Regions from separate parts of the Homo sapiens genome. Here region 1 is linked to region 2. The links come from fine-mapping of genetic effects on gene expression. Tissue or cell type: tibial artery. Region 2 holds a variant in brackets; the other region holds the start of a gene. All regions are shown on one strand. Distances are between the middles of the regions.

Region 1 (2,906 bases), 31 kb before region 2:
CGTCTCAAAAACAAACCAACAACAAAAAAAAAGCATGGTAAATAACACAAAATACAACAGAAAAAAAAATCCAATTATAATTAATAAAAATAGCTAAATTCTAGCTAACAGAGATATATTTTCAGAATACATTTTCTAAAAAGTCCAGTTATAGGCTATGTCTGAGAGACAGGTGAAAAACATAATGGAATATTATCATATAAATGAATTGACACAAATATATCTCGAAAACATAATGGAGAATGAAAAAAGATGCAAAATGATTATTCAGTATGGTGTCATTTTTGTAAAGTTTAAAAACAAAATTAGGTATTCCATATAGCATTGCTGGATCTCTACATCATATGTAATAAAAGTATAAAAACACAAACTGGAATGATATGTACCAACTTGAGCACGGTGACTATCTGTGGGGCGGAAGAAGAAATGAGAGTGGGGCCGTCGTTATGACTAATTTTGTATGTCTTTAATAAATCCCAAGTACATGCAGCAAAATGTATTGATGTCTGTTTAATCTTGATAGTGGGGGGCGTGGGTAGTATTAATATTATTTTCCGTACTCTTCCGTAGGCCTCTAATATTTCCCTCTTTACAGAACACTGACACACGCTCAGGGCTCCCCGGGACATCTTTGTGCACATCAACATTTATGCTGAGAGTAGCTTCTGGACTCCAAAGAGGAAACTCCCCGGGCACTGTGGCCCACGCCTGTTATCCCAGCACTTTGGGAGGCTGAGGTGGGCAGATCGCTTGAGCCCAGGCGTTCGAGACCAGCCTGGGCAAAATAGCGAGACCCACCCCCGCCCCCCATTGCTACAAAAACATTTACAAACTAGCCGGGCGTGGTGACCCCCGCCTGTGGTCCCAGCTGGTCGGGAGGCTGAGGTGGGAGGATCTTTTGAGCCCGGGAGGTCAAGGCCGCGGTGAGTCGAGATCGCACCACTACACTCCAGACCGGGCGACAGAGAAAGACATCCATTCACTCCCCCAAAAGAAGGGGAAATTCGCTGAGGCTGAGCGCTGGTTTCCCAAGGTGGGGCTGGCACCTGCTGAAGCTGCCACAGGAGTGGAGAGGCCGTAGGGAGACTTGGAAAGAACCTGGAAAGGGGGCCGGGGCTATGGAGCCAAGGCTGCAGCAGGGCTGGATGGTGTTTGTAGTTTGTGCAGAATAGGAGGCAGTTTTTAAAGCCGAGATACAGCTCTGGTTGACTGGAGCGGGGAGGGGTGGGTGTGAGAGGTCAGGAAACCAGCGGCTGGAGGCCGGGGGCCTGGAGCGGCAGGGCTGGCGGGCAGACGTTAGGCCCCAGGCAAAATGGGCGCACCCCCTGCGGGGGCCCGAGGTGACCTGCTCGAGGTCCGGTCGCCCAGGTTCCACCTGGAGAAGAAAATCTTCGTAATTTGGCTGGGGGAGGGGGGATGCGGGCACAGGCTGTGTTCTCCACGTCGCGTAGACGCAGAGGCCATCCCTGGGTCGGAGAGTCTCCGTGGAGTGGCACCCCAGCGTTCCCCGTACGCCGGGGCCACTTTGTCGGGCTGACGGGGGTCCCTCCAGGTGGCCGCCGGCGGCGGGTCCCGAGCCAGACCGGGAAGCGGGGAGCAGCCCTCAGCCCGCGAGCGTGGGGCCGGGGCAGACTGGAGGCCGGGCGGGCCCCGCCGAGGGTGGGGCGGGGCCGGGCGCACGGGGGCGGACCTCGGCGCGCTCCCGGCCGCTCGCTGGCTCCGGGGCCGCGGCGGCTCCTCTGCCGGGTCGCGCCGGACGACTGGCTTCGGGCGGCGGCCCCGGCGGCCTGTGGACGGACGGGTGGGCCGAGGTACAGGCCCCACGGCCGCCGTCTCCCGCTTCTGCCCGCGCAGAGTCCGCGCCATGGCCGCCTCGCCGGGCTCGGGCAGCGCCAACCCGCGGAAGTTCAGTGAGAAGATCGCGCTGCACACGCAGAGACAGGCCGAGGAGACGCGGGCCTTCGAGCAGCTCATGACCGACCTCACCCTGTCGCGGGTGAGGGCCCGGGCCGGCGCGGGCGGGGGCGGCCACGGCCGCGGGCGGGACCCGCGCGGCGGGTGAGAGGTTGCGGGGCCAAGGCGATGGCGGGGCCGGGCGGGGGCCGCGCCCGGGAACCGGCGGCTGGGAGGGGGACCGGAGCGGCCGCGGCCTCGGCGTTTCCCCGCCTGGCGACACCCGCTAGCCGTTCGCGATCCCGGGCTGAGGTGGGAGGGTCGCCCGGCCCCGTGTGCGGGAAGATGGGCAGGGGTGAAGCCCGTGGAGGCGGGCGGCCGTGCGAGGGCGGCCTGAGGGGGAGGAGGACGAGGAGCCCCGAGAGGAAATCGCAAACAGCTCGGAGGCCGGCCGGGTGGCGCGGCGCGGCTTCTGGTCGCTCCGAACATCCCCCACCATCGAGCCCTGCTGTTCTGCCGGCGTGGAAGGCCGCGGGCACCCCAGGGTCCCACGCGCTCGTGGGGGGAGCTCTGTGCACAAGTCCATCCAGGGCCCGGCCCTGGGGTGGCTCGGGTTGTTGGAACCACGACGGGATTCCGTGTCGAGTGTGAGGCTCTGCTCCTTTTACTCCTTGGAGGTGCTTTATCGGGTCCAGTTTACTTTGTTCGGCCCGGGATATTTAGTGAGAACTGACAAGCGTCGCTGGTGACTGGAGAGGGACCTGGAGGAATGAGTAAGGCGCGAGCCGGGACAAACACCTGGAGAGGTTAGGTAACCGCTGAGTGAGGCAGTGGAGGATGGAGAGCCAACCGGAGTGTCCGCGCAGGGTTGCAGAGAAGGGGGGTCAGCAGGAGTGGGGCTGGCCTTGAGGATCCTGAATGCTGACCTTGGAGGACCATCGGGAGGATGGGGGAGGATCTGCAGATTCTGGGGGACTGAGGCGGGGGAGACAGTTTGAAGGAGAGCTGAGAGC
Region 2 (2,906 bases):
GGCCAGGGTATGAGTTCCATAAATATTTCTTGAATGAATGAATCAAATAGTTGAGTATTAGCACTATTCTGAGAATTTTGTATGTATTATCTCATTGAATTCTTACAGTAACCTTATGTGATGGTACTTTTATGACTCCCATTTTACAGATGAGAAAACTGAGTCTTAAGAGGTTAGGCGACTTGCCCAAAAGGACCTGAGCCACCACACAAGTATTCCACTAGAGCAGCAAGTTAGAATAAACACAGACTTTATTATTATCCAGATTTATGTTCAAGTTGCAGCTCTGTCAATTACTGGTTGAATTAAAACCTCTCTAAACTTTAATATCCTTACTTATGAAATAATTATTCTACCTCCCAGGTTATTGGAAGAATTAGATGAGATCATGGGTGCATTATTTTCATGTATATTTTCCTGATTGCTGGAAAAGTTGAAATTTTTTCATTTTGTGGTTGTTTGTTTGTTTGTTTGTTTTTCGAGGCAAGGTCTCACTCTGTCAGTCAGGCTGGTGTGCAATAGTGTGATCTTGGCTCACTGCAACCTCTGCTTCCCGGGCTCAAGTGATCCTCCCACCTCAGCCCCCCAAGTAGCTGGCACCACCGGCGCATGCCACCACACTCGGCTAATTTTTGTTACCCGGCTCATTTTTATGTTTTTGGTAGAGATGGGGTTTTGCCTTGATGGCCACGTTGGTCTCGAACTCCTGGGTGCAAGTGATCCATCCGCCTTGGCCTCCCAAAGTGTTGGGATTACAGGCGTGAGCCACCATGTCTGGCCTTTTTCATGTATTTACCGGCCATTCTGGTTTCCTCTTCTGTGAATTTCCTGTTCATAACCTTTTCTCAGTTTTTTTTCTTATCAAATTGTAGGAGTTCTTCGAATGTTAGAGATACATGTTGTCTTATATGTTATAAATAGCTTTCCTCATACCATCATTTGTTGTTTGATGATGTTTTTTGGAACCTTCTTTTATTCATCTAGTTAGCGCTCCAGGTTTGGTGGTTGATCAAATACTTGAGAATAGGGATTTATTCATTCAGCTAGTATTTGTTGAGGGCTGGAACTCTGTGGGATGTCCATTCAGTCAGGACACCTCTAAATCCTGACTTCCAGTTTACGTCACTGATGATGGCTCTCATCCTTGGTTCTACCAGATTCTTGAAAGAGAATGTGTTTTCTCAGAGCCAAGTAGACCCAAACATTTCCCAGACTTTGGCCACATAATCAGAAATTTCAAAAGAGTTCTGGAATTTGTGGGCTTAGCTCCAAGTTACCAGGCATCCGTTGT[C/T]TTCCCTGTGGGCAGAATTCGCTTTTAGCTTACTCCACCCTCCTCAGCTACGCAGCATGATTGGGGCAGACGATGAATACTTCAGATATCCCCTGTGGGGTTAACTCCAGAGGCAGCCTCAGAAACTAGACACATAATTCATATGGTCAAAACCTGGCAGGCTCTTCTGAAATCGTGTGACTTCCTATCAGGCCACCAGCTCTGCAGATCCTCAAAGGTCTGGCTGTCAGAACAATAGGGAATGAGAGCAGCGCCCAGATGCTGCCTGCTGGAGCTGCAGGTCCTGTTTGAGTCTGAACAATAAAAGTCCTGGAATGAATTACCAAGGCTCCTGATTGCACCCTGCAGGTTCAGGTTTAGTTTGTGGAGATGTCTCACATAAGAACTGTCTTGTAAGCCGCTTGGGGGGTTCAACAAAATTGGTCAACAAAATTTAATACCATACAAGCCCTTTTCTTGATCAAGCAATTTAGTAAGTCTCTGTCATAAGTCTCTATGACCTGCCATCCAATATGTCAAAATAAACAAAATTTTCATGTTGATGGTCACAAGTGCAGTCCCTAGAGTGGGGATCTGGTGACCACTTCCACCACTAACTAGCACTGGATCGTAGACAAGATCGTTAGTCTCTCTGTGTCTCAGCTCACTCATCTGCAAGATGTGGCTACTAATAGTACCTAAGATAGAGCTATTGGGAGGATTAAGTTAGGTAATGCATGTAAATCCTTAGAATAATGCCCAGCACAGTTGTTGTTCAATACATATTGCAAAGTTCCTAGTATAAACTCCCTGTTGCAGCCTTCTAATTTGACTTCAATAGATTGTTGGTACCATTTGCCTCTTTCTTTGCAGGTATCCTACCTAGGCCTAGAGAACTAAGCTTTTGCTGTTCATTATATGAAGCTTCTTAAATGTCATACAGGCTAGTTGCATCCTACTAATTCTTCACAGACTAGATAAAAATACTTTTGCTGAAGTCTTAATCGGCCTGTCCTGAAGTCAACCAGGCTGTATGTTAGTGCCTTGACTCAGTGCAGCTTTCAAGAGAGGCAGAAAGAATACCCACAGAGAAGGCACATGTGGGCGGTGGCAGTGTAGGACCAGGAAAGAAGCTAGGTCTCTATATTCCCTCGCATTTTGAATCTGTGTTAAATTCAATCATATTAGTATGAAGCAATCCTCTTACCTATCTCCTTAATCCAGCCTCTGACTGCCAGCTCACAAAAGAGGGAGAAGAGGCACTACATTTAAAGTAGTGATTATCTCTAACTAGAATTTTAAGTCCCTACATGTTTTGGCTGTAGAACCAGCCAAAGTTTTGTTCCAATTCCCTACAAAATTTCACAATAGTCAGGAGTTAGAATTGGTCCCTATGTTATGAAACAGCTAGTTTTTATACTTTAAACTTAAAATGAAGCTTTAGTTGTTTATTATTACTGTGGATATTTTCCAAGAGACAGAATAACATCTGTGGAAGATTCTACACAGGCCTTGATGCCAGACATTGTAATTATTTCCCTGCTCAAAGGCAATAGTCAGTGCCTCAAGGAACTCCCTGGCTATAAGCAGTTGGCTGCCTCGACAACAGATAGCTAATGTCTTAGCTCTTTTCTGT

Direction of the effects. Alleles are on the strand shown, and positions count from the first base shown. SD is a standard deviation of normalised expression in the study named.
In carriers of allele T in region 2, the expression in tibial artery of the gene that starts at base 1,716 in region 1 tends to be higher than with C alone (moderate effect, 0.66 SD a copy in GTEx).

What was found.
Region 1: it holds the start of CRTC3, and the variant in region 2 is fine-mapped to the expression of CRTC3 in tibial artery (GTEx, PIP 0.98). The same link has a PIP of 0.9 or more in aorta, breast and tibial nerve.

The regions. Positions count from the first base shown.
Region 1 is chr15:90,528,208-90,531,113 of GRCh38, forward strand. It overlaps CRTC3 (CREB regulated transcription coactivator 3), which reads left to right and starts at 1,716. Exons shown (of 15, transcript NM_022769.5): 1 at 1,716-1,996. The coding sequence starts at 1,865. RefSeq lists silencers at 1,170-1,219, 1,320-2,069, 2,090-2,269 and an enhancer at 2,660-2,819.
Region 2 is chr15:90,559,163-90,562,068 of GRCh38, forward strand. The region is part of intron 2 of CRTC3 (CREB regulated transcription coactivator 3); the gene reads left to right. Among named protein-coding and RNA genes, the nearest start is that of CRTC3, 31 kb to the left of the region's middle. The variant C/T (reference allele first, on the strand shown) is at 1,292.